Regions from separate parts of the Homo sapiens genome. Here all the other regions are linked to region 1. The links come from fine-mapping of genetic effects on gene expression. A gene starts in region 1. Each other region holds a variant in brackets. All regions are shown on one strand. Distances are between the middles of the regions.

The links. PIP is the estimated chance that this variant, and not a neighbour inherited with it, causes the effect.
Region 2: its variant is fine-mapped to the expression of CASZ1 in whole blood (TOPMed, PIP above 0.99).
Region 3: its variant is fine-mapped to the expression of CASZ1 in visceral fat (GTEx, PIP above 0.99).
Region 4: its variant is fine-mapped to the expression of CASZ1 in whole blood (INTERVAL, PIP above 0.99).
Region 5: its variant is fine-mapped to the expression of CASZ1 in monocytes after LPS (Kim-Hellmuth 2017, PIP 0.95). The same link has a PIP of 0.9 or more in monocytes, monocytes after muramyl dipeptide and monocytes after triphosphate RNA.

Annotation. Positions count from the first base shown.
Region 1 is chr1:10,794,245-10,799,344 of GRCh38, forward strand. CASZ1 (castor zinc finger 1) reads right to left here and starts at 2,402. Exons shown (of 21, transcript NM_001079843.3): 1 at 2,320-2,402.
Region 2 is chr1:10,689,510-10,694,609 of GRCh38, forward strand. CASZ1 (castor zinc finger 1) reads right to left here. Exons shown (of 21, transcript NM_001079843.3): 4 at 4,365-4,403. The coding sequence starts at 4,380. Among named protein-coding and RNA genes, the nearest start is that of CASZ1, 100 kb to the right of the region's middle. RefSeq lists silencers at 4,530-4,619, 4,920-5,089. The variant C/T (reference allele first, on the strand shown) is at 2,013.
Region 3 is chr1:11,746,791-11,751,890 of GRCh38, forward strand. It overlaps AGTRAP (angiotensin II receptor associated protein), which reads left to right. Exons shown (of 5, transcript NM_020350.5): 3 at 650-755; 4 at 1,625-1,820; 5 at 3,287-3,979. The coding sequence ends at 3,402. Among named protein-coding and RNA genes, the nearest start is that of C1orf167, 13 kb to the right of the region's middle. RefSeq lists enhancers at 1,395-2,071, 2,072-2,748. The variant G/A (reference allele first, on the strand shown) is at 2,679.
Region 4 is chr1:10,672,492-10,677,591 of GRCh38, forward strand. The region is part of intron 4 of CASZ1 (castor zinc finger 1); the gene reads right to left. Among named protein-coding and RNA genes, the nearest start is that of CASZ1, 120 kb to the right of the region's middle. RefSeq lists enhancers at 1-570, 3,146-3,936, 3,937-4,725. The variant T/C (reference allele first, on the strand shown) is at 3,186.
Region 5 is chr1:10,580,775-10,585,874 of GRCh38, forward strand. The region is part of intron 3 of PEX14 (peroxisomal biogenesis factor 14); the gene reads left to right. Among named protein-coding and RNA genes, the nearest start is that of PEX14, 110 kb to the left of the region's middle. The variant C/T (reference allele first, on the strand shown) is at 2,998.

The DNA of each region.
Region 1 (5,100 bases):
TCCGGCGATCTGTTTTCCAGTCCCCTCGTGCGCTCTCACCGCGCGCCTGTACCAGCTCGGAGACGTCCTAAATTTACTAACTTTGCCCCGCGACTACCAGGGCCTTTTCCCCCTCGCCACCCCCTGAGTGTACCGGGTGTCGGCGGGACAACTACGCACAATGAGGGCCGCACCCCCACACTCCACTCGGTCAGAAACGCACACTCCGCCCCGTGGCCCAGTGATCCAGGTTTGGGGGAGCTCCATACTCAGGAGAGGCGCTACTGCCGCTTTTCCGGTGGGCACGCACCCGCACCCGCACCGTAGCCAGCGTGGCTGGAAGGAGGTCCTCGCCGCGCCCAGAGCCGGCTTTCCAAGCTGAAGCTGGGGCAGAGGAACTTGTGTGGAGGAAGAGGGGGTCCCCTGCCTCCCTCAGCGCTCCACTAGCCTCCCCCAACTCCGGACCCGGGTCGGGGATGACTTGGAAGAAGAATCTGCGCCCACCCCTTAGAGAAAAATCTATTATTATTATCTTAATCTACGCCCCCAAAGTGTCCCTCCAGCCGTGATTGACGGCGCATACACCTGTTCCCTTCGCGGAGGAGCTTCCAGCGCCGGGGACAGACATTCGCCCAAACGCTCCGCAGCGGCCCAGCAACCGCCCGCCCGCCCGCGCCCGGCCAGCCCCCGCCAGCGGCCCCAGCGCGCCTCTGCCCGCACCTCGCCACCCCGGCGGCCGCCCCCTCCCCTTCCAGACCCGGCTGCCCGGCCCGCCAGCTCCCGGCAGTGCTGGCTTCGGAAAGAGAGAGAAAGAACAGAAAGCAAAACTTCCTGGCGGCCGACGGCCATCAGCTGCACATTCTGCAAATGCCACCGAGTAAAAATAAACCGGCCGCCGCTCCGCCCGTCCGGCTCACCCCGGGCGCACGAATCGGCCCCCTGCCCCGGGAGATCCCTGACTCGGTCTGGCCCGATCCCCCATTCCCGCGCGCCCCCTGGATCCCCGCTCCCCGACGCTCCTCCGTCAGTCACCACGCTCTCCTTTGCCGTTAAGCCGGACCCTAAGTGACCGGGAAACCGGCTCTCTCCCTTTGGTGTTCCCTGCGCCCCCACAAACTACTTTTTTCTCTGTCCTTCACCAGGTGCCTATTTCAGCCCTGTGCCCTTGGATTCAGGGCTCCTCCTCCCCAATTGTTGAGCTCCGAGGTCACCCTCAGCCCACCCTGGGGGAACAGACCCCGACCGACCCTCTCCCACGCTGCAGAGCCCCCCCGGAGCGCACCACTCTACCAGCCCGCTAGCCCGCCAGCCCAGCGTCCCACGTCCCCGGGCGCAACTTCTCTTCTGGCGCACACAACAGCCGGCAACAACTCGCCCGAACTTTCCCCGGGACCCAGGCGGGCTCCAGCCGACAGCCGGGCAGCTCTGGGCCGATGCCCCGGCTCCCCGTGCCCTGTGTTGCCAGCCCTTCAGCTGGGGAGGCAGGGGGTGGGGTGGGGAAGGGAGTGAGGAACGCCACTTGCCGCGCCTGGAGCAGCGCACTTGAGATAAACTTCCCAGGCACAGATGAAAAAGGGGGCGCCGCTCCCCCCATCTAAGAAATCTCTTGCCTTCGATTTCCTATGGGGGATACCCTTTGGCACCCCGCGCCTAAGCGAACACTGCCTACCTCTGCTGGCAGCACCTACACCCGGTATCCGGGCACAAGAGCCGGCTGGAGGGGTTCCCCACCCACCCCTTCCCATGGGCAAAGTCTTGCAAAGTCACCCCAGGCACCCCTCACCCCGCCTCCTTCTCTGCCCTGGAGAGCGCACGACCCCTCTGCTGCTGGGGGGTGGGGTGGGGTGGGGGTTTAAGGGGAAGGAGTGATTACCCGGTATTGGAGATCACCTGCCCCCCCGGGAGCCCACAGCGCGTGGGGCGCCCCCACCCTATTTGCAAAGTCCTGTGCTCGCGCCTGGCACCTCCCTCTCTTCTCCCCTACCCCGCCACCCCCTCAGTTGGAGTAAGCGACCCCCAGGAGGAGCAGCCCTCCCCTCCCCCGGAGCCGCGCGCCGGGCATTCCCCTGGCCACGGCAGGCAACGCGCCGCCCCGCGCCCGGGTGCCAGCCCTCCGTGCCCCCTGCCTCCGCACGGCCGGAGTTGGGTGGCAGCCGCCGATCGCAGGCTGGCTGGCTGGCTCGCTCGCTCGCTCGCTCGCCCGCTCCCTGCTGCAAGCGGCAGCCCCGGGGGTGGGGGGGGTGCACCGGGACAGGGGGAGAGACGGGGAGGCGCCCCGGGAGGCCCGCGGAGCTGGGGGACGTGGGGGGGCCGCGGCGGAGGGAGCGCCGAGTCTCTTACCTGCACTTGGGGCGGCTTTGGGTGACTTTCCAAGTCCGGGGGAAAAATGTGTGTGTGTTTGGGATGGAGCGCCGCGGGCGCGCATGCGCTGCCCAAAGTTGCCGGATCCCGGATTTTTCGCTCCCAGTCTCCGCTCTCGCCCGCTGTGATTATGGAATTCTCCGCGGCCGGGCGGGCGAGTGGGTGGCATGCAAAACCCGGGCCGGATCGCGGGGCCGGGCTCCGCTCCACCCTCACACCCCCAGACCTGCCCCTCCCGGATCCTTCCCACCCACCGCCCGGGCTGAGCTCAGCGTGTGCGCGCGGCGAGTCGCACGGCCTGCGGAGGAGCATCTGAGCGCTCGGCCCCCTTTTGCAGGTCCAGAGGCTTCTACACCCCCCCCCAGCTGAGTTGAGTTGAGGCTAGGGGAAAAGAGAGAAGGGATGGGGGGGGGGGTTACTTTCCACCTGTTCTGAACCCCGAGAGAGCCCGAGTTCGGTTCCCACTTTCGACAGAAGAACTGGCTCTTTTTTGCAAGTTAGAATGTTAGAACTGTGGAACCCAAAGGAACGAAATGTTCTCACTGTTTGATATCTGCTTTGCACTTATTCTTTGCAAGGGAGTTTTTCATTCAATCTATTGTGCAAGAAATAAATCCTTAAGTGAGCAAGATAGGCCGTGCAGAATGAACCTTACATGGAGGGGCTGGGGGGGGGGCAGATAATACACATTAAAACAAGTGGATAATGTTATTTCAGAGAGTGAAAGTATCCATGAAGAAAATAAACCAAGGCAATAGGCTAAAAAGTGTCTTGGGGGCCGGCATGGTGGTTTACGCCTGTAATCCCAGCACTTTGGGAGGCCGAGGCAGGAGCATCGGTTGAGCCCAGGAGTTCGAGACCAGCTTGGGCAACATAGCTAGACCTCATTTCTGACAAAACAAAACAAAGCAGTGTCTTGCGAGAGATAATCCCCTTGCCCCCAGATGGGGGGGAAGGGCCTTTTGAGGGGCACTTTCATACTTTATTGAAGAAACCCCCTTTTCTCCCATACCCAGACTTCCCATTTCCCAGTTGGTTTGAGGTGGCCACACCAGCTGAGCCTAGTAGTCAGCTTCAGTGCTGAGGCCCTGTAGCTCTGGTCTTGCCTTTCTCAGCAAGCGCACCCCTCATTCCAGGCCTGAGCTGCTTTTCCCTTCAGCATAAGCGTGGGATGGAAATATCGAGAGGCATGAAAGAAACTGAAAACACCCAGATGATGAGATAAGTGAGAAACTGACCATAACAGTAAACGAAATAGATCAATGATTTGTGGAATAAATGAATATAAATTCAAAGTATGACCCACAGCTTCAAGCCCTGCTCAACAGAATGCATTAAACTAAGAGGCAATGCCACAGGCTGGTAAACATTGTTGCAGGCTGGTAGTATTTGGAGCCTAATCTGCAAGGTGTCAGGAAAGCCTCTCAGGACCAGAGAAACGACCCAAAACCCTGTATGATGATTGTCTAAGACAAGCATCTTCCGGGATGCATTCCCATGTCCTGCCTTAAACTGGAAGTTAATTGTCCAGAAGCATATGGACACAGACTGGAGACATGATGGCCCTCTGGCCCTGAGGAGGCCAGGATTTGCCCTGTGCCCTAATAAAGCCAACAAATTTGGGAGAGGAAGCTGAGCCATCCCACACTCCTTAGATACTCAGTGATATTTGCTTGTGTTAGATGGACTGGGGAAGAAACCAGCTCAAAAAACCAGCTCCTCACTTCCTGGAATAGTTCTGGGGGTCCATTCAGGATCTGTCCACACAGGAAAGCCAGATTTAGACATTAGACACATGTTTCGGGTTCATTTTGTTTTCCCCCCTCCTTATCCCAATAATTGACTGGAAGCAGCAACACAACGATAATTAACATCCCTCAAAGACCACTGATTGGTTACTCTCCATTGCCGCCCCCACCATCCAAGGCATTCTCAGCTCTCAGGGGTTGAGGGCTCACCCACCATCTCTAAGACCCTTGTGCCTGGTGACTTAGCAGGATGCACAGCCCCAGAGATCTCAAGCCCAATCTTGTCATCCTACAGAAGGAGAAACTGAGGCACAGTGAGGGGCAGTAACCTGAGAAGTGGCAAGGTAGCTCTTCTACCTTATTGGCTCACGGCTGAGTCCACTCCTGGGGCAGCGTAAAGAAGGGGTTAGCAGCTTGGGCTTGGGGGTGAGACCCTACCGCTCCACCAGCTGGGTGACCTTGAGGAAGGCATTTGACCCGTCTGTGCCTCAGTTGCCTCCACAGTAAAATGGGGATAATAATAGTACCTACTGCCTGGGATTGTTGAGAAGCTAAAATGAGTTAATGCAGGAAAAGGGCCTGGGCCAAGATATTGATCGATAAATGCCAGTAATTGTCATTGCTCCTTGGGACATCCAGTGCTCCCTTTACTTCTCATTTCTTTCCATCCTCTCTCCATTCCTTCTCCTTTGTCCTTTTTTTCCCCCTCCAACAATAGTCCTTCACTCATTCATTCATATGGTAGGGATGACTAAGCTCCGAGGAAGAGCAGATCTCCACCAGTGCTGGGGAGACAGAGATGAATGAGACAAAGCCTGCCCTTGAGGGGCTAGGGAAGAATTCACTTGTCTCTCTGTCCCACTATCAGGCCTACCCCACTTCTCACTATCAGGCTCACCCCTACCCCTTTCCCACTATAATGCCCTCCCGCACACCATTTCCCACCTCTCTCAACGTCTCCAACAGCCACGTCACCCACCAAACTTTTATTAAAATGTGTATTCCTCCCTCC
Region 2 (5,100 bases), 100 kb before region 1:
CCTCGCTGGTCCCTACCAGGGAAAAAGGGCCAGGGGTGGGGTCTCTCTAGGGAGCCTTTCGGACCTGCCCTTCTGCCTCTGCCTCTTGTTGGGGAGGAAAGGCTATGCTAGGCCTTTTAGCCTCAGTTTCCTCTGACGTCTTGCAACTAGAACCAGGGCTGGTTCAAAGGGTCACTTCACAGCCCAGAGCTGCCTGTCTCCAATGCTCTCCACCAAAGAAAAGGTCCAAATAATGTGCTCCTCACCTCGTCCACTCACCCCCTACTCCCACCCGCCAGGACTGCCCCACTGAACAAAATCAAGTTGGGAGTCAGACAGCTGAAGATCTTAAAGGTCATCTGATGCTCAAGTCCCTCTAAATGTCACTAACCGGTGCACAGCACAAACCTCTGTTTGAATGGTACCAGGAAACTCATGACTTCCGAGATGGCCCATTCTGTCCCGGGCTCTGACAGCTCCTTTCTGCCAAGATGGCCCCAGAGCACCTACCCCCTGCAGCAGACTGGCAAAACCGGTGCCCAACCTGGCTACAGGGGCTGGCCCCAGCTTAGACTGGTTGAGTGGGTGTATCTGGCCAAGTAAAGGCTGGAGGAAGGAAATTGAGAGCAATCTGCTCTGCCCTAAACCCGGCGTGGAATCTCTTCCTCCAGTACAGCACAGGAACCTTCTCAGTCCCCGGTGCCTGGCAGGTCGAAGGTGTAACCAGAGCTAGTGAGGTTCCTAGAAGCCTCCACACTTGGCAAGGCTCTGGCCTTGACCTGGCAGCTCATGGAAGGTCTGATCTGAAGGTGGTTGACACTCAGGGCAGGGGCCTGAGCAGCACACACTGGGGCTGGGTTGGGGATGCCAAGCTCTTTGCTCTCTCAGCTTAGACACCGTCTAGAAGAAGTCTGCGGCCTACCTCAAGACAGTATGCTCTCAAAGCATGGGGCTACTGAGAATCAGGAAAATGAGCCAGCCTGGCCCAGCTTCTGATCCCACGCTTCCTGGCCTCCCCACAGTTGAGGCCTGGGCTGTCTGCGATGGGGGATCTGCTGGCAATGCAAGGGGGTCCTGGCCTGGAGCCCCAGAAGGAGAAAGAAACCGGCCGGGCTTCCTCCCATTGACCCGCCTCGACGACAAGGCTGCAGCCACAGCGACACATGGGCAGCACTGTCCCTCACCGGCACCCCCTGCAGTCCGTGGCCATCCCTTTAAAGTTGCCCTCTTGCCTCTTTGGCCCTTGACCTTGTAGAGCCTATCTTGGCTCCTCCGCGCCTTGGACAGCCCCACCCCTTTGTCTCAAGAAGAGAAGGGGCAACTATCATCAGATCCCCACGAGTCAAGGGCGAACGCCTGCTCAGAGCTCCACCCGTGCTTCACCGCCATTTTCACCCTGGCTTCTAGCTGTGTTCAGGGCCTGGGAATCAGCCTGGTGGGACCTAACCCTGGGAGCTTCCCAACTGCAGGATGGATGTACCTGTGTCTGAAAGCTTCCTCCCATCTCCCCTCCCCCCTTCCCGCTCCCTCCCCCAGGGAAATCACTCTAAAAGGGCCTAATGGAACTATGTCCTCCTCTCTTCCTCTCTCCCCTCCCTCCCTCCCTCCCTCTCTTTCCTTTTTTTTTTATTAGCATTTGTGGAATTTATTCCCAAACTCTCCTAATCTTCCGTACACAACCATTTGATTTGCATAACCCAACCCCCTCTCATAAAAACTGGCTGCTAGTTTAATTAAAAAATGTAAATTTGCTGTCATCTCGGGGCCTGGTGAATTAGGACGACATCGGCATTTTTTATTGCTAAAGACGTCCAGATTGATCCAGCCCTTGGCTGAACTATGGTGGGGGAAAGGGGGTCCACATGGCCCCTGAGGGTCCTGAGGTCCTTCTGTCCCCTCCTGAGAAGGCTTGGCTCTCCCACCACTGACTTCCTCATGGCTGAAGGCCTTCAGGACCTAGATGTGTCCGGGGCCGCGGGGATGTTAACCTACGATCAGGGAGGCATGGTGGGTCCATGATGCCAGCAGCCCTT[C/T]GAGGCCTGCGCCCCTGGCCTTGGACTATGTCAGAGAGGCCCTCGGCTGAAGCTGCCCACGCTGCCCCAGAGGAAGGGACCCTCACTTCACCAGCCACGAGCCCCGGCCAGAGACGAGGCCCATGGCCCCAGCTGTATGCCGTGTGCACTATGAAGTTGAGGGAGCTGTTCCCAGCTCCTGAAGATGAGCATGGAGTCAGCCCAGGGACCAGCTCAGAGGGGATCTCAGCGTCCTCATCTGCTTCCCTTTTTTGGTGAAGTGGGGGGAAGACTGCTTTTCTTCTGAAGTTCTGAGATTATAAGTGAAACTTCCAAGTTCAAAGAAGAGACTGAGATGGTATCACCAGATGACTCCTCCAGGAAACAGTCAGAACTCTGCCACCCTGGGCCTCCCCTCTGAGTGGCCAGAGTCCAGGCCTGAGTCCCACTGGGAGTGCTCTACTCCAGCTACAGGAGGAAGCAGCTGACCTCAGGGTCCCTTCTAGCTTCTAGGAAAAGTTTCCAGAGCCTGTCCCTGGAGTGCTGGGAGAAGTCAGTCTCCCTAAGGCCCAGGAGAGAAGCCACAAGAGGCTCTGCCACCTGCCTCCTACCAGGGCTGGGAGGCCCTCGCTCCAGTCAGGACACCCTAGAGAAGGGCTTTGGAGTACTGTCCCCACGACAGACTTGGAGGGACTGGTTGGTGGATGGCAGGAGGATGGACGCTGGCTCCAGCTGGCACCCAGGTTAGGAGGAGGCCGACCAGAGGGCCTGCCTTCCAGCTCTGCAATGCCTGGGTCCTGTGTGCTGGCCCACAAGCAGAGGCTCTCCTGCCCCAGGTAAGGGGTGGTGCATTGCCACCAGGCCCATCTCTGAGGTCTGCTTCTTGGCTGGGATGGGTGGGGGCCCCATTTCCGAAGAAAGGGGGTGGGGCCTGAGAGGGAGGTGATGAGACACCGACTGGAGGTGGGGGCAGGCAGGTTCTCTGTGGGAGTGGAGGGCAGGGAGGGGCAGGGTGGCAGCCTTGGCCTTAGACACCTTTACCACTTTGCCCAGCAGGGGGTGTCACACCCTTCCCGGGCGCAGAGGTCCCCAGGCCCTCCACGTCAGACCAGCCAAGATCACACCTGGTGTCACACAGTCCTCAAACTCTGCAAATGACACCTCCCCCCAACAAACACAGGCCCTTCTTCACCGGCCACCGTGCCACCCATCCTCATCCCCTCAGGGCTGCCTCCGGTCTCTCTGCCCACTGACCTTTAGAAGGTCAGATATCAGCTCATGGGTCCCAAGGGCCGATGCTGTGAACTTGGGCCTATTATAAACAACAACGCTAACAGCCACCAGTATCACCTATCCCATCAATGAACCAGGAGAGTTCAGAGATCAGTCTCAATGAATGATCGGGCTGCTTGTTTCTTTTAAAACATTTAAGAAGACAGCTGCTTTTGTCAACCTAGCACGTGAGGGTCCTGGTCAAAATTTGGTTTCAATAGCCAGGGCCCATGGGAAGCCCGCAAGAGCTGAAGGCAAAAACACTGGAAAGAATTAGATTAAACCCAAGAAAACACCAAAATATCAGGATAAACTGCCCCAGGTGAGCACCAGGCCTCCTGGAGCCCCCGGCCTTGTCCCACAGGAGGCCCCCAAACCCAGATGCCTACGTTGAGTAGTCTGTCTGGTCCATCACCACCCCTAGGGTGGGGGCTAAAGAGGCAGGTGGGAGACAGTCCGGGGCCCCTCACTTTGAACTGATAACAGCCACCTCATCCCACAGATTCTCAGGTGAAAAATACTCATTAGCCATAATAAGCAGCTTGATCATCCGACACAGCCTTGTCCCAAATAAATTAAATTCCTTTACCTTGAGACAGTCGCCCCGAAACCAGACTAACCACCTTTCCCAACAGGACGCTGCTTTCAAAAACTAAACCACCCCCCACTAAAAAAATAAAAACACACACCCCAGAGCCAGACACACAAAGATCTTTGCAGAGAACAAAAAAAAAAAAAAAAAAAAAAAAAAGGCACACACACAGAAAAAAAACACGAAGCCATACAAAAAACACGGAGAACAAAAACCCCACAAAAACCCCCTAAATCCTCTCTCTGGGTGCCCCCCAGCTCCTGCTCCTCTCGGTTCTTTCATAATGACAAGCATCACATTAGTCACAGCCTCTAAGCAAGTGGCAAATAACAACAACAACAGCCTCAGAAGTCGCCGATCCCGAGGCCGGGACGCCGGGAGGCAGCCGCCCGACCCTCCCGGCCCCCACCCGGCCCCGCCGCCACCTCATTGGGCTAAAAATAAGAACTTCCGTAAAAGAAGCGAAAGAAAAGTGAAAGAGCCGCCCCTGCGTTCCCACCGGCCGGTACCTGTTCCAAGATCCATTCTCTTCTCCTTGGTCCCAAACTCTTCGCAGAACGCCACCAGGGGAAGACCGGGAGAGAAGAAACACGGGGTTAGCGTCTCGCGGGACCCCGGCCGCCCGCCCTGCTTGTCCCCCGCCCCGCAGGAGCGGCCCGTCCCGGGCGGGCGCCGAGGCCGCGGCGGAGAAACTTTCTCCTCCGCGCCGCCCGCTTCTCACGCTCGGCCCCGCACGCGCCCGCGGGTCCGCGCCGCCTGAGTTTCTCCAACTAAGGCAGCAACTCTCGGCCGGCGCGGCCCCGGCTTGGGGGCCCTGGCCGGGGGATCCGCGAGGCCCAGGGGCGCCCCCGTCCCGCCGACCGCGCCCCGCGCCCGGGTCGCCGCCCGAGACCGCGGCCCCCGGGCCTCCCCCGCCCGCGCCCGGTACTCACCATAGTCGGAGAGTCGAAAGCCGAATTCACTTAAATAATCAACTTTCATAATACTTAATTAATGCCTAATTGCAACTGATTACTCCCCGAATAACAAGTTGTTTTAAAGCCCTGATGTCATTGCTCCTGCCGGTAACACTCAGGGTAACAGTTTGGCAGGAGGGAGCGGGCGGGCGGGCGCGGCCGGGGGCGCTGCCAGGCGCCGCGGTGATTGGCAGGGCGGCCGCGGCGCCGCCTCCTCGGCCCGGCCCGCGCCGGCCCCGGCAGGTGAAAGAGCAGAGCGCGGCCCCGCCGCCGCCGCCGCCGCCGCCGC
Region 3 (5,100 bases), 950 kb after region 1:
ATCGGTGTTCACTATGATTTTGATTGGATTGACAAGTAAGTCAACAATGTCAGTATCAGTACCCTAAAAATAGAATAGGGCGGGCCTTGTGTTAGGAAAGTGACGAACTTGTACTTAGCACCGGTGGGCAAGGGAAGGAGTCTCAGGGTGAACATTCGAGTCTCAGGGTGAATGACAAAAGGAGGGCCAGGTGTCAGGGTAGAGGGCGCCCGCCGCACAGGGCAGTGGCTGGGAGGTCAGTAGGGCGAGGCTGTGTCCGGGATCCCACAGGCCCCTTAGGCCCTGGTGAAGAGTCTGCATTTTATTCCAAATGGGACAGAAAACTGTTGGAGGATTTTTAGCAGAGGAGTGACAGCATCTGACTACGTTACCGGTTGCTGTTTAGAGAACAGAGTGGCAGTCAGGACGCTGGCACAGGGTGGCTGCGGCTGTCATCTGCCAGGAGAGGGAGGTGCTTTGGATCTACAGGGACACAGCCAGATCCAGGGTCTGGGTGGGAGGCGGAGCCCATGGGATTTGCTGGCACACAGCCGGGTGGCCTCGAAGACTATGGCATGTTCTGGGAGGAGGCCCTGAGACGCCGGAGCAGGAGGGAGGTGACCTGCGGGGTGGTGGCCTCCTGACGGGACTGAGCTACCTCTTCCTACAGGGGCTGCATTGTATTCTCAGGCTCCTATGCCTGGGCCAACTTCACCATCCTGGCCTTGGGCGTGTGGGCTGTGGCTCAGCGGGACTCCATCGACGCCATAAGCATGGTGAGCCAGGGTGGGGGAGAGGCGGCAAGGCGGGGAGCCGCAGCACAGGGCAAGACATAGCCTGGCTCTGCTACCCCGTCCCATCCCAATCTTCCCCCTCTTCCTTGGGCCACCACTTCCCATTGTCTAAAGCCTGTTCATCAGCCTCCTGGGCTCCGGCCCATGCCTGTGTTCAGGAGCCCAGCCTGCTGCTCTTCTTGTCTGGCTTAGAGAACCCCAAGTCTGCCATTATCTCCCTGAGGAAAGCCATGGGGTGGGTCCCACCAGTGCCTCGGATTAGCCACTTCGCAAGAGCAGTGGAACATCCCCTGTAACCTCCCTCTGCGGCTCTCTTTTAGGGGAGGGGATATGGCTGGGAGACCCGGCCAAGAGGGCATTTCACTACTTTAGGAAGTAGAGGTGACCCTGCCCCACCGAAACCTCCCACAGGGGGAGCTTCTCAGCACCCACGGAGCCCCGTGGGGCAGTGAGCACTCCCGCACGGGCTCTTCAAGCCGAGGCCAGGGCCTCAGGATGACTGAGAAGAGATTTTCTTTGTGTTGGAGAAGGACTGGGTGAACTCCAAGGAACCTTCCTCTATGGAGGTTCTAGAGCCAAGTCTTGTGCCCATCATGGCCTTGGAGATGACGGGAAATGGGTGGGGAGGGAGGCTCTGGTGGAACCGAGACCTGGGCCCCCGGCATCCCTGCCCCCAGACTGCAGTCTCAGCCAGCGGCTCCCCAGCGGGGCCCTGCCTGCTTGCTTGATCCATTTTCCCGCAAGCCCCAAGGACACAGCAGGGCATGAAACGGCTTCCCATCCGGTGTGTGGCGGGGGAGCCACGGAGCGTGGTGGGGGTGTTGTGCTCATCAGTGTGGTGTGTCTTGCAGTTTCTGGGTGGCTTGCTGGCCACCATCTTCCTGGACATCGTGCACATCAGCATCTTCTACCCGCGGGTCAGCCTCACGGACACGGGCCGCTTTGGCGTGGGCATGGCCATCCTCAGCTTGCTGCTCAAGCCGCTCTCCTGCTGCTTCGTCTACCACATGTACCGGGAGCGCGGGGGTGAGCTCCTGGTCCACACTGGTGAGGCCACCACCTCCAGCCAGCTCCTCACCGCTCCCTTCTCTCCCTTGCCTGGCCTCCAGCCTCTCCCTCAGTGAGCCAGCCTTGCCCCATGGGGCCAGGGCTCAAGGTGCAGGGAGAGCGTGGCATGGGCGCTCTGTACTAGGCTGGACAGGTCCAAGCTCCTAGTCTCTGCTGCAGGAGCCCAGGGGTCCCCTGGTTGTCCTGGTCTGCCGTGACCTTCTTCTGCTGTGAAGCTGAGGCTGGGCCCTTCTCTCAGCCCAGAACACAGGCACAGCTGGGGGTACCATTTAGTTCCCAGGGGCAGCCCTGGGCTGTCTCCATCCTGAGGGCCACGGGCACCTACAGGTCTCCTCTCTGTTCTCACCGGGGCCCATCACTGGAACCCCATTTCCTGCCACATGGGGTCTTCCCTCTCCTGCTGCAGAGACTGCTAGGTGGCCAGGGCAGAGCCCGTGCCAGTGTAGGCTGTGGGAGCCTCAGTGAAGACAGCCCTGAACAGGGGGCACTTTCCCTGCCCACCGGCCCCTCCCCACTCACCCAGCCTTACACCTGCCCTCTCCCACGCCCTCTCTGAACTCCTGTACTCCTTCTCCTGGTGGCCGAGCCATTTGCCTGCTCTCTGACACCTCTCTCTCTCTTCCTTTCTCTCTCTCTTTGAGAGGAGTGGAGGGAGGTGGTAGGGTGTGGCCTTCTGCCTTTCACTCCTGAGATGAGATGCCCCACGTGGCCTGTGACTGCCACCAGCTGGTTGAGGGTGGGAATGGCCTGGGGCTGCCCACAGTGGCTGACCTCAGCACTGCCTGGGCCTGCCCCCAGGTGAGGGGTGCCAGAATGTTTCTCCCATTGGACAGATGA[G/A]GAAACTGAGGCCCACATCCTTTGGGACTTGTTCAGGGTCCCGGGATGAATGTACAGAGTAGGGGATGGGAGTGAGGCATGTGGCGTACTCGGAGCCCTACGGCCCTGCCTTGGACCCAGCCCCAGCCTCCGAGGCCATCTGGATATGGTAATGTGGTGTCCTTGTACCTGGGAGGGGAGCTGGAGAGGAGTGCGTGGGCCCGGGGCTGATGTCCCTCTGCCCAGGTTCCTAAGCACGTGCTGCCTGGGGAAGCCCATGGCACAGGGGCCAGGAGCCTGGCTTTGGACTCGGCTGCCTAGGCGTGGGTCCCAGCATCATCAGCTTTGAGCTGTGTGATCTCGGGCAAGTCACTTCATCCCTTTGACCCACAGTCTCCTCATCTGTAAAGTGGGGACAATAAAAATACCCGTCGCACAGGGATACGGCAGGATTGAATGAATAATACACGCTAAAGGTTTAGGGCCTGGGGCTGCTGCCTCTGTCTCTGTGCATGGTGTCAGGATGCCCAGCCCGAGGGTGGCGGGGGTGGATCTTGGGTTGGACTCAGCTGAACATCCCGAGTTCTCACCCTTCATTTTTCTTTCCCACCATGTCCCCTGTCACCTAGGTTTCCTTGGGTCTTCTCAGGACCGTAGTGCCTACCAGACGATTGACTCAGCAGAGGCGCCCGCAGATCCCTTTGCAGTCCCAGAGGGCAGGAGTCAAGATGCCCGAGGGTACTGAAGCCAGCCACGCTGCGCCCGGCCCTGCCCCGGGCCTTCCTCGTGCCTGGGAGGTCGTTCTAGGGATGCTCCTGACCTCCGTCTCTTGGACCTAAGATGGAATGTGTCCCCAGCTCAGGGATTGCCTGAACCAAGAGGCCAGGAGCCCCCATGGGCCGCCCAGTACCATGCACACTCCTGTCCCGAACTCCCTGAGGCCTCCCCTCCCTTCAGGGCACCCACTGGTTCCCAGGCTGGAACCAGGGTCTCTCTTTACCTCCTACCCCATGGTGGCACCACAGAGGCCCTCAGCCGAGTCCTGCCTGAGTGTTGCAAGCTCAGGCCTTTAAGGACTGCTGATGCCCCCTCAGGCCTCCCCCAAGTTTGCTGGGCTTTGGTGGAAGCCCTGAGAGCTTCAGGTCCTGCTCAGCCCGAGGAGCAGTCTGGCATGGGAGTGAGGCCCCGTCCTTCTCACTGCCTGGTCACATGGTGCCTAGGGATGCAGGGCTGGAGGCCAGAGGTGTCAGCAACACTGTGTCCCACCACAACCTCCAGCCTCCCTTTTCAGAGCACAGCATTAAAGTTTGGGGAATTCTGTAGATGGGCTGTGTTTTGAACCACCTTCAATCTCCTGGCTGGGCTGGGGCCTGGCCTTGTTCCTGGGAAGATGTCTCCTGCCAGTTCCCAGGTGGAGCCTGTGCTGTGCTGCCCCATTCTGTCATGGCAGGAGGAAACAGGCATGTGCGTTGGCTGAGCTGGGCTTGAGCCTGGCTCTGGCCTAGCAGAGGCCACAGGAGAGAGAGACACTGGTGGGTGTGGTGCGTGGGCATCCGTTTCTCTGAACCAGATGACCCAGGCACTCTTTGGAATCCTGCTCTGCCACTTACTAGCTGCATGCCTTCAGTGTCTTCTAGAAAGGGTTGGTGCCTGCTCCAGGTGTGAAGTGCCTGGCGTGAGGAGGGCTCCCTAAGTGATGGTGAACTTGTTAGCAGTGGACCTGCTCCTCAGGCCAGTGACGATGCTAGGTTAGGAGGCAGGGGCGACCTCTTCCTGGTAGCCCCTGTGTCTGGTCACAGCTGACTTGGGCTGACACGTCCAGAAGTTCCCCAGGGCCTCGGCCCACCCCACGGACAGGTCTAGCTATTCACAGCTTGCTCTTCTGCCCCCTGGGCACCAAGTGCCAGGGCTTTCCCAGGCCATCCTGGCTTGTCCCTGGCACAGGGTCAAGGCCTAGTGCACAACTCCCATTATTCTCTTGCGTCCATCTGTCAATCAAAAGAGGCTCAGTACCTGCCTGGTGCCGAGCGGGCTTGGGGCTGCAGTGGTGACCTTGGGAGCCTGCTCTCAACCTAGGAGTCTTCCCACCTGGAGGATTACAGACAGAGGCAAGAGCCCCGAAAGAAGAGGACATGGGCCTCTGGGTCAGGGAGGAAGGCTGCTGTGGGGAAGGGGCTGTGCTCCGGGCAGAGGGCTGCTGAGCAGCTGCAGTTGTGAGAAACTGGAAACAGCCTCACTGTCGGGAGACGGACCAGTAAGCCACGGTCCATTCATTACAGGGAGTATGGACCAGGAAGCCACAGTCTATTCATTGTAGGGAGTATGGACCAGGAAGCCACAGTCTATTCATTGTAGGGAGTATGGACCAGGAAGCCACAGTCCATTCATTGTAGGGAGTATGGACCAGTAAGCCACGGTCCATTCATTATAGGGAGTACGGACC
Region 4 (5,100 bases), 120 kb before region 1:
CCCCCTCCCCGGGCCCAATCTGTTTTCAAAGTGTGTCTGTCCTTTATTAAATTGTTTTCTTTTCCACATTATCAGTTGCCATGGAGACCTCATCTCTCGGATTATTTGAATTTCATTATATCTATTGATTTGGGAGCATTTCATCTTTTTTATTGTTTTTCTGTCAATTTTCAAAACGAATAACCATCTAATTTGCGTCAGTGCTGATTATGTTTGTCCCTCAATAGAGGTCGGCAGCTGCGCTGGGGAAACAAATCAATGAAAAACCATCATAAAACTCCCCACTCCAGTCTCCAGGATGTGTGGGTGACATTCCACGCCTGCGAGAGACACACTCATCAGCTCCAACTTCGGCGACGGTGGCGGCGGCTCCGTTCCACGTCCGCCTCCTTTGGCCTTAATATTTAATTTTGCGATTTGGGGCATTATTAGTGGTGTTTTTATTAGCGCGTGTGCCTGTGAGTGTTTGGAGGTGGGCTGGCGGTTCCATTAATTTGTGGGTGAGGCAGGGAAGCCCCAGAGGAAGGCACGGTGGACGGCGTTGGGGTGCAGTGGCGAGTGGAGAAAAGAGGGGAAAAGCTCCGAGGGGGGCGGGAGCCTGGGGACCGGGAGGGCCCTGCGGAGGGGCTGGAAAAGGGGGACCGAGTGAAGGGGAGGAAAAGAGGGAATTCAAATTGCTTACTTTGTTGGTTTTTTTAAATAATTTATGCAATTTTAAGCATTTATGTATAAATTTTTTAATAAGCCACCCTGGAGCAGGATGGCCATTAACATCCAACGTCCTTCTGTCCAATGGGCTGGCGGAGAGGATCAATTTCTGAGAGTACTTTCCCTTTTTTATGACATGATAAAATGCTTTTAAAGCAACTTACACAAATATGGAAATTTTTTTTCGTCCCCTCTCCCTTCGCCTAACAGCCTTCTTATCCGCCAGGGAGGGGGAGGTTGTGTGTGTGCACACACGCGCGTGCACGCACACACACTCTCTCGCACTCTTGTGCTCACGCTGCCTCTCTCCTGCTGGGGAGGGGGGCTGAGGGGGCTGGCAGGGAGACAGCCCCAGTTCTAACTGGAACTGGCCGCCTGTCCTTCTAACAAGGGCATAAACTTTCATTACCCATGCACGCAGTCAAAGACAATTTAGGGAAACGCGCTGCTTGGAAAAGGAAAACCTCAGCGATTCGTGGCCCATGCTGCTGCCACCATCTGGGGGGCTCTCACCTCCAGCTCTAGGGAACCCGGTCCCTGAACCTCTGGCCCTGCCAGCAGGAGGTGGGGCGAGGGCAGGACAGCTTCCATGTGGACCCTCCGTGGGCAGGAGAGCCCAGAGAGTAAGGGTCTCCTCCTTGGCTCAACAGGACCATCCATGCCTCGGGCTGAGGCCAGGCGCCCTGGGTCTTGCCCTCCTTGCCCTCTCTGGATGGCCTGTACTAACCCCAACCAGGGCTAGCCCTTGAGGGCAAGTGCAGGCCTCTGTCATCCCTGCCACCGCAGTGCCTGGATCAGAGCAGAAGCTCAGCTATGCAGACGGACAGACTGACAGATGGACTGAATGGCGACAAGGCAGGGAAACAGGCCCTAAGGTATCCTGAGGTGCCTGTAGGGGCCCCACAGATGCTGGGGCAAGATGCCCTCCCCAGGTGCCCCTGCACTAGAAGCAGCTCTGGTGCAGAAGTGCCTCTTCCTACAGAGTCAGGGCATTGGCCACCATCACCCCTACCTGGGCATGAGCCCCTGACTTCCCCGGAGATGGGAAGACCTTCTAAGAGGAGGGCCAGTGCCTCCAGGTCTCAGGGTGACCCTGCCTCACCTGCCTGCTCCCTCTCCTGATGAAGGCAAAGAGGAACCTGAGAGATGCCCGGCCCAAGCCCCCACCAGCCGACGCAGACAGTCCTGAATCCAGCGTGGGGTCCGAGCCTTCCCCGGCACCGCTGCTGCGGGAGGGCGTCCAGCCCTCTGAGGCCACCGTGGGGCACCTGGGCTTTGGCAACTTCCACATAAGACAAATCGACTCCAGAGACCTGGCCCCTTGGAAAGCTCATCACTTCAGCGTCTTCCCTGCCCTGGGCTCGGGTCCCCAACTGTAACACAGCGTTGCTGAGGGGATGATGTGGGCACACGTCTGGCTGGGGCTGCAGAGCACACGGTGCCTCCCTGATGCTCCACGGTGACTGTGGGCAGAGTCCCCTCCTCGGAGCCGGGAGCACTGCTTCCTGCCTGGTAACTGCAGGGCACCGCGGACCTGGAGTTCAGCCCCGTGTGGCCCTGCTCACCTCTGCCTGGGGATCTGAGAGCTGCCCTAGGCCTCCTGCTCCCATCCCCGCTAAAGCCAACTTCTTCCTGGGCCTCACCTGCCCCAGCCATCCAGGCCCAGTCTGGAGCTGACCAGTGGGCAGCCCAAGAAGGTCCCCATGGGTCCCTGGGCCCTCTGTCGTGGCAGCAGGGGAGCAGCCCTGGCTGCCCCAAGCCCTCCGTGGGGATGCAAGGGGAGCGCCCACCCCTCCTGTTTTTCTGTGCTCAGATACCCCCCGCAACCAACTGTCATTAAAATAACAAGTTTCTGTTACAATCTAAACATTCCCACATCGCATAAAGGGTTATATTACACCCGAGTCACTCCCGGCCCATGTTTGCACAGAAAAGCTCACGGCAGGTCCCCCCTCCTGACGAAGTGACTTATTAAAGTTTAAACAGTAATTAACAGAACAATAAAAATAAAGGGATGTTTGGGGAGTCGTAGCGCACACAGGGTTTTTGGCAGTGCCAGCAGTTTTTCAGTGCCCTGCGCTGGCAGCAAAATGTGACTGTGAAGCCAGTGGGGACAGAGGACGGGGCCAGGGTCGAGCCAGGGAGTCCTGAGGCCTAAAGGGCCAGAAACCCCGAGGCAAGGCTGGCGGGAAGGAATGGGGGTCCTGGGGTGGCAGGGTGGGCACAGTGCGAGCAGGCGGGGTGGTCTGGCATGGGCAGGGAACAGGCCTGGGTGGGGAGGCTTCAAGAGGGGTGAGGCCAGTGCCCAGCTCAGCCTCAGGCACTTCCGGGAGCCCAGTGCCTCGGTCACATCCGGCCAACTCCGCACGGACCTGGCTGGGGGAGGTGCCAGGTCCCCCGACACTGCGGGCATTAGGAGACCCTGCAGTTAATGATTCCTGGGGCTGGACCCCAGCCACTCTGGGCTCCTCTCCCAG[T/C]TGGGCAGGTACCCCTACCCCTGCCTCTGGATCCTGTGGCCAGGGCACTATGGGAACTCTCCTGGCCCCTATTAAGCATGGGTAAGGACTCGGGGGCCAGCCAGCCTAGCACATGACCCCCCCCCCACCCCCAACAAAGGGAGAAAGTGGCCAGCTTCCTGGGCCAGGTGGGTCCCCAGCGGCAAAGTCCTCTTTCCCCAAGGTTTGCAGGGAGCTGGCCTGGCAGGCCGGTCCGGGCCAGAGCTGCCTGGGATGGGCAGGGCTAGGCCTGTTACCCTCAGCCTTGCCTCTTCTCCCTCAAGTTCCATCCCAGGGGCTCAGACACCTGCCTGCCAGGGATGGCAGAGACAGTCAGGATGAACCAGGCGCCCAACCCCAGCAGCCAGGGAGGGGCCCCAGGAAGAGGGCGGGGCTCCCCCTGGACCTAGGCCTGCTCAGAGGCTTGGGGGCCAAGGAAGGAGGGACAGCAGGAACCCCTGAGGGTCACACAGAATGTGTGATCTCAGGGTGGTGACAAACCCATGCCAACCAAGTGACAGACACCAAGGCCCTGCTGGACTGGCCCGGACCCCCGTCCCCCATGCTGCTTCTCATTCCCTCTCCCGGAAGCCCTGGGCTCCCGCTATTGTCGGCCACGTTGAGGGAGGGCCCCTGCCTGTCCCATGCTCACCCCTGTCCTTCCTCTCCAAGGAGAGCCACCACAGAAGCAAAGCTCTCACTCCATCACACAGCGTTAGCCCCAAAAGGTGACCTTTCAACAGAACATCCCCAATGCAGGCTCTTCCCACCAGGACAAAGAAGACACCAAGAGCCCCCGGGGAGGCCTCTCCACCATCCTCTGAACAAAGGGGCTCTCCTCCTGGGCTCCTCCATCTCTCTCTGTGCCTCTCCATCTCTCTCTGTGCCTCGGTGGACCAACCTGCCTAGGGGTGCCCTGGGATCCTATTTCCACAGCAGGCCTCCCTCCACCTTGGTGCCTGCCCTCGACCAGCCTACAGCTCAGAAACGAGCCCCTGGCCCGGGGCGAGCAGCCCCACAGTTTCCTGACGTGGACGCCTTTGCTGGTTCCTCCACGTCCCAGCCACACAGGCCAGCAGGAGCCTCTGTGAAGCCTGCATGGAGAAGAGATGCTGGGCTGGGCCAGAGACTCTCTCTAACATCCTGTCTCCCGGGATCTAGGTCCTGGCAGCTGGCGGGTATCAAGGGCATGCACTCTGTCCGGGCTGAACCCCATACTGCCTGGCTCTGCCACTGCCTCTCGCTGAGGCCCCTGTGGGCACAGCCAGTCAGGGGGTGCAGGGCCCCACAGACTTCAGTGCTGCCTGGGCTCTGGCACGTAGGACGTGAAGGAAAGCCAGCAGCTTTTCTCCCCCTCTTTCCTGGGCAGAGCCCCCTGGGGCTCCATCGCCCCCCGCCTCCAAGATGAGTGAGTCACGGTGAGGGCAGAGTGGAGGGTCGAGACAGAGAGAGCTCAGGAGGGGGCAGGTGATGCCTCCCAAGCCTCCAGCCGCTCTGCTCAGGCTGGAAGGAACGCCAGGAGCTCACACTCCCTCGCTGCTGGAGGAGGCAGACGGAGTCACCCAGCGCCAAAGCCTCGCTGGAGCAGGAGGGGGCAGGGGAAGGCACCTTCAGGGTCAGGGGAAGGATTGACAGAGGGCAAGGCAGAGGGTGTCTGGGTGGCACCGAGGAGGGCAGGAGGGGACAGGGGCCTTCTCATGGGTACGTCTAAAGTGGGCAAACAGGGAAGCAGCTGCTCGTCCTGACCCACTGTTTCTAGAACCTGTGTGTGGGGCATGGCAGGGGTGTGGCAAGTGGCTCTGGCTGGACACGGAGCTAAGGAGGGCAGCCTGCACTTAGGTCCAACGCACCTTGGGACAGGGGACAGCTATCAGGGTGGAGGCTGTCCTAGGTGCAC
Region 5 (5,100 bases), 210 kb before region 1:
AGCTGTTCTTTTTTTTTTCAGTGCATTATTTTTATTATATTTTTATTCATCAAGTTCATATGCTGCTTATATATGCCAGGCATTGATCTATAAAAGTAGTACCTTATTTAATCTTTATAACAACTTTATTCCCATTTTACAGATGAAGGACCTGACTCATAGCTATTAAGTGTCAGAGCCAGGATTAAAACATAAGCCACCTTTTTTTCTAATTTTTGCTTTTAACCACTATGTTATGCTTCTAGTGGAGGAAGCAGCTGACACATAAATTAACAAATAAGTGTCCTATTGATATGAGCGACAAAGGAAAAGAACAGTCTTCTCTGTCTCAGGAAGGGTTCAACCAGAGAAGCAGAACCAATGGGAAATAGTATGCTGTTGCCACGTCTGAGGCTGGAGCTTGAAGTCTACATGGCAGGTAGTCAGAAAAGGAAAATTAAGAGCAGTCTGGAATCCCATGAGGGCAGAATGAAACCTGTTTCCATTCTTGTTGCCTCTGACCTTGGTGTTAAACGAGGATCTTTGTTATCCTTTTTTTTTTTTTTTTTTTGAGACAGAGTCTGGCTCTGTCGCCCAGGCTGGAGTGCAGTGGTGCAATCTCGGCTCACTGCAACCTGTGTCTCCTGGTTTCAAGCAATTCTCTGTCTCAGCCTCCCGAGTAGTTGGGATTACAGGCGCCCGCCACCATACCCTGCTCATTTTTGTATTTTTAGTAGAGACAGGATTTCACCATCTTGGCCAGGCTGATCTTGAACTCCTGACCTTATGATCCACCCACCTTGGCCTCCCAAAGTGCTGGGATTACAGGCGTGAGCCACCGTGCCTGGCTAATCCTTGTTATTCTTATTTGTGCATTCTCCCAGATAAGCTTGAGGAACATCTGAGATAATTTAAAATAATTGGGATTTTTTAATTGAAATTGTGTTAAACTTATAAAATAATTTATAAGTTTATAATAATTTATATTTTATTTAATTTATAATTTATAAATTTATAATAATTTATAAAATAAAAATAAAATAATTTGAAAGGCTTTTTCGTTTGTCTCCCTTTATTTCTCTTTGCAACATTTCTTTATACTGATCTAACATTTTGTAAGACTATAGTAATTTTATATTTCTCATGGCTATTATGAAAGGAATTTCTCTTCATTTTATTTTTTAATTATTGCTGGTACATAGGAGTGCTACTGATTTTTAATTTTATGTACTATATCTTGCCATCCCACTTTCTCATGATTAAATTAAATTTTATAGGTATATGGTCAATTGATTATTTTGTAAACTTGTCTCTAGTTCATAGACATTTTAATTTTATTTCCTGCTTTATTACATAGGATGAAACTCCAAGAATAATGTTAAATGTTAATGATGACAGTGATAATGAGTTTTATGATAAACAGCTTTTTTTTTTTAAGAGGGGAAAAAAGGGATTATCATGAAGTACTACAAATATATCTTACAGCTATTGAAAATCTGCAATTCATGAAGCACCAGTGTGCTTTATTCACATTTATTCACACATTGAACAATTATTTGGTGAATGACCACTATGGGTTGATCAGTATTTTAGGTTTTGGGGATACAGTAATGAATAAGGCAGAGAATAAAAGTTCAACACCATTAAAATCCTCAGAAAACCATATAAGATAAAAGAAAGGTTACAAAGCCATCTATGTTTGACAACCAGAGGAGTATTGTCTAGATAGTAATTGCTGTAGAAAAGTACTTCTACCTAGGGTGATCACAGAGGAGCTTTGGTGATGGAAGAGATAACCCGGAACAACTGACAAGCTCAGAGTAGGGTTGGGAAGAAGCTACTCTGATGGCTGGAACATCAGGGGTGGAAGACTGATGCCTGACTCTCTCCAGAGTATAAGGCATATCAGGGGCTGATGAATAAACTAGTTTGCTTTATTTAGTACAGGGTGAATATATGGTAACAGGCATTTTGTTTTGTTTGGTTTGGTTTGGTTTTGAGATGGAGTCTCACTCTGTAGCCCAGGCTGGAGTGCAATGGCACGATCTCAGCTCACTGTGACCTCCGCCTCCCGGATTCAATCAATTCTGCCACCCCAGCCTCCTGAGTAGCTGGGATTACAGGCGCCTGCCACCACACCTGGCTAATTTCTATATTTTTATTAGGGACGGGGGTTTCACCATGTTGGCCAGGCTGGTCTTGAACTCCTTGACCTCAAGTGATCTGTCCCTCCTCGGCCTCCCAAAGTGCTGGGATTACAGCCATGAGCCACCATACCTGGCCTGGTAACGGTTTTTATACTTACCTCTGGGGATTCTTGGAGATTCTGAGGAGATATTTCAGGGGCAAAGAGGGAATCAAGAAGGTGGGACTCTGATTTTTCTCCGTACCCCTCCGGACCTCTCAAAACCTGAACATTACTTTTGTCTGTTTTACATATTGGGGTTTCCGTTTATTTATTCTTTCTACACTTTTTTTTTTTTTGAGATAGAGTCTTGTTTTGTCACCCAGGCTGGAGTGCAGTGGTGCAGTCATGGCTCACTGCAGCCTTGACCTCCTGGGCTCAAGCAGTCCTCCTGCTTCAGCCTCCCTAGTAGCTGAGACTACAAATATACACCATTGCACCCAGCTTTTTTTTTTTTTTTTTTTAAAAAGGTGAGGTTGCACTATGTTGTCCAGGCTGGTCTTGAACTCCTGTACTCAAGTGATCCTCCTGCCTCAGCCTCCCAAAGTGCTGAGATTACAGGTATTAGCTACCACGCCTGGCTTTTTACACATTTTTATTGAATACCTACTAGGTGCCAGTAGAACCTAGGTGTTTTAGGTACTAGGAACATAGCAGTGAATAAAATAACCCCAAATGCAATGGTAGAGTGGGAGGGAGAAGACAGTAAATAGAATAAAATATAAACATGAGTAAGAGCAATAGAGGATTCTTCTTAGGAATTTGCTATTTTAAATGGGATGGTTTGGAAAGGCCCCTCTAAGATAACATTTTGAGCAAAAACTTGAAGAAAA[C/T]GAGGAAGCAAACCATGCAGATTTCTGGGTAGAAAGAGTTTCAGGAAAAGGGAATGACCGATGCAGAAGCTTGAAGAGGAAGTTGTGTCTGGCAAATTCCAGGAACAAGAATGGTAGGCCAGGTGGATAGCAGTGAGACACGAGGTCACAGCATTCACAGGGAGTAAGGTTGTGTAGGGCAACAGTATCTTGGTAAGGACTTTGGTTTTATTTTGAGTAAAATGGAAAATCATCAGAGTGTTTTAAGCAAGGAGTTATACCATCTGATGTAAGGTTTAATAGGATCACCAGGGTGGAAGCTGGGAGACTAGTCTAGTGTTGAGATGTGATCAGATTCCCTGGATATTTTTTTGGAAGTAAATCCAATAGAATAGCCTGATTTGTGGGATCTGGATATGAAAGAGAAGTAGAAATTAAGGATGACTCCAAGGTTTTTGGCCTTGTGTGACTACAAGTTTGGAGTTGTCATTAACTAGGAATGGAGCAGTTTGGTGGGGCAAGATTAGGAGTTCAGTGTTAGACGTATTAAGTTTGAGATATCAGACATCCAAGTGGAGGTATCAGGTGGGCAGAGGGATATTATGAATCAAGTTCAGAGGAAAGATCTGAGCTACAGATATAAATGTAACATTGTTAACTTCTTGATTTTGATAATTATTCTGTGGTTATATACAAGCATGAGCTTCCCCGACTCCCACCCCAAATTAAGACATGCTTACTGAAATATTTAAGGGGTAGGGTGTGATGTCTGTAACTTAGTCTCAAACAGTTCAGGGAAAGTAATCATATAGACAGATCAATAGAGAATAATAAAGCGAGTGTGATGAATTTAACATTTAAAGAACCTGGGTGAAAGATATATGAGAATTCTTTGTACTATGCTTTCAGCAGCTTTTCTGTAAATCAGAAATTATTTCATAACAGAATGTCTTTTAAAAGTGAAGGAAAATACAGACATTTCCAGGCAAACAAAAAGAGAAAATTCATCACCAGCACACTGTACTGAAAGAAACACTAAAGGAGTTTTCAGGCAGAGAGAAAATGATCTTACATGGAAACATAGAAATGGCAGGAAAGAATGAAGGACAAACAAAAGGACACATATCAACGAATATTGACTGTGTAAAATAAGAATGTCTTTCTTGTGGATTTTAACATACATTATAATTGAAATGCATGCCAGTACACAAAAGGAGGGGTGGAGGGAAAGTTATATGTGCGAGGATCTTTGGGGGAACAGTAAAATTTCTCATTTATATCACACTATAGTAAGTAAAGGATATATTGTGATGTCTAGGGCGTTGGTTCGCAAGTGTTTTAGTCTCAGGACCCCTTTCACCCTTAATTGAGGATCTCCCATTAGGCAAACATCCAGTAATTACTGTTGCAGACAAATTCCATTGACGGGTGCTAAAATGAGATGAAGGTTTCAAGAGAAAGAGCAAAGTGTCTTTTCCGAGCTATTTATTAACTCTGAAAGAAAAGATAGTAACTTTGCAGTAGAGAAATCCATCAGAAACCACCTTGACTACAAGGTAATAGAGAGAAAAACTGAATTAAAAAGAAGACAGGAGAGAAAAGAGAGCACTAAACAGGTCAAAAGGAAAACAAATTGTAATATGAAAGATATAAACCCCCAAAGTTCAGCATTTACATTAAATATAAATGGAGTAAATACTCCATTAAAAGCAGTTGGTCAAGATTAGATTTAAAAGACTCAATGCTGCTTGCATCAGACACACCTTTAGTATAAAGATATTTAAGGATTAAATGTCAAGTGATGGAAAAAGATACACCATGCAAACACTAACCACAAGAAACTCGGTAGTAATACCAGACAAGGTGGTCTTAAAAGTAGAATCAGAAGGCCAGGCGTGGTGGCTCACACCTATAATCCCAGCACTTCGGGAGGCCGAGGTGAGCAGATCACCTGAGGTCAGGAGTTCAAGACCAGCCTGGCCAACATGGCGAAACCCTGTCTCTATGCAGTGGTGCATGCCTGTAATCCCAGCTACTCCGGAGTCTGAGGCAGGAGAATTGCTTGAATCTGGGAGACAAAGATTGCGGTGAGTGGAGATCACGCCACTGCACTCTAGCCTGGGC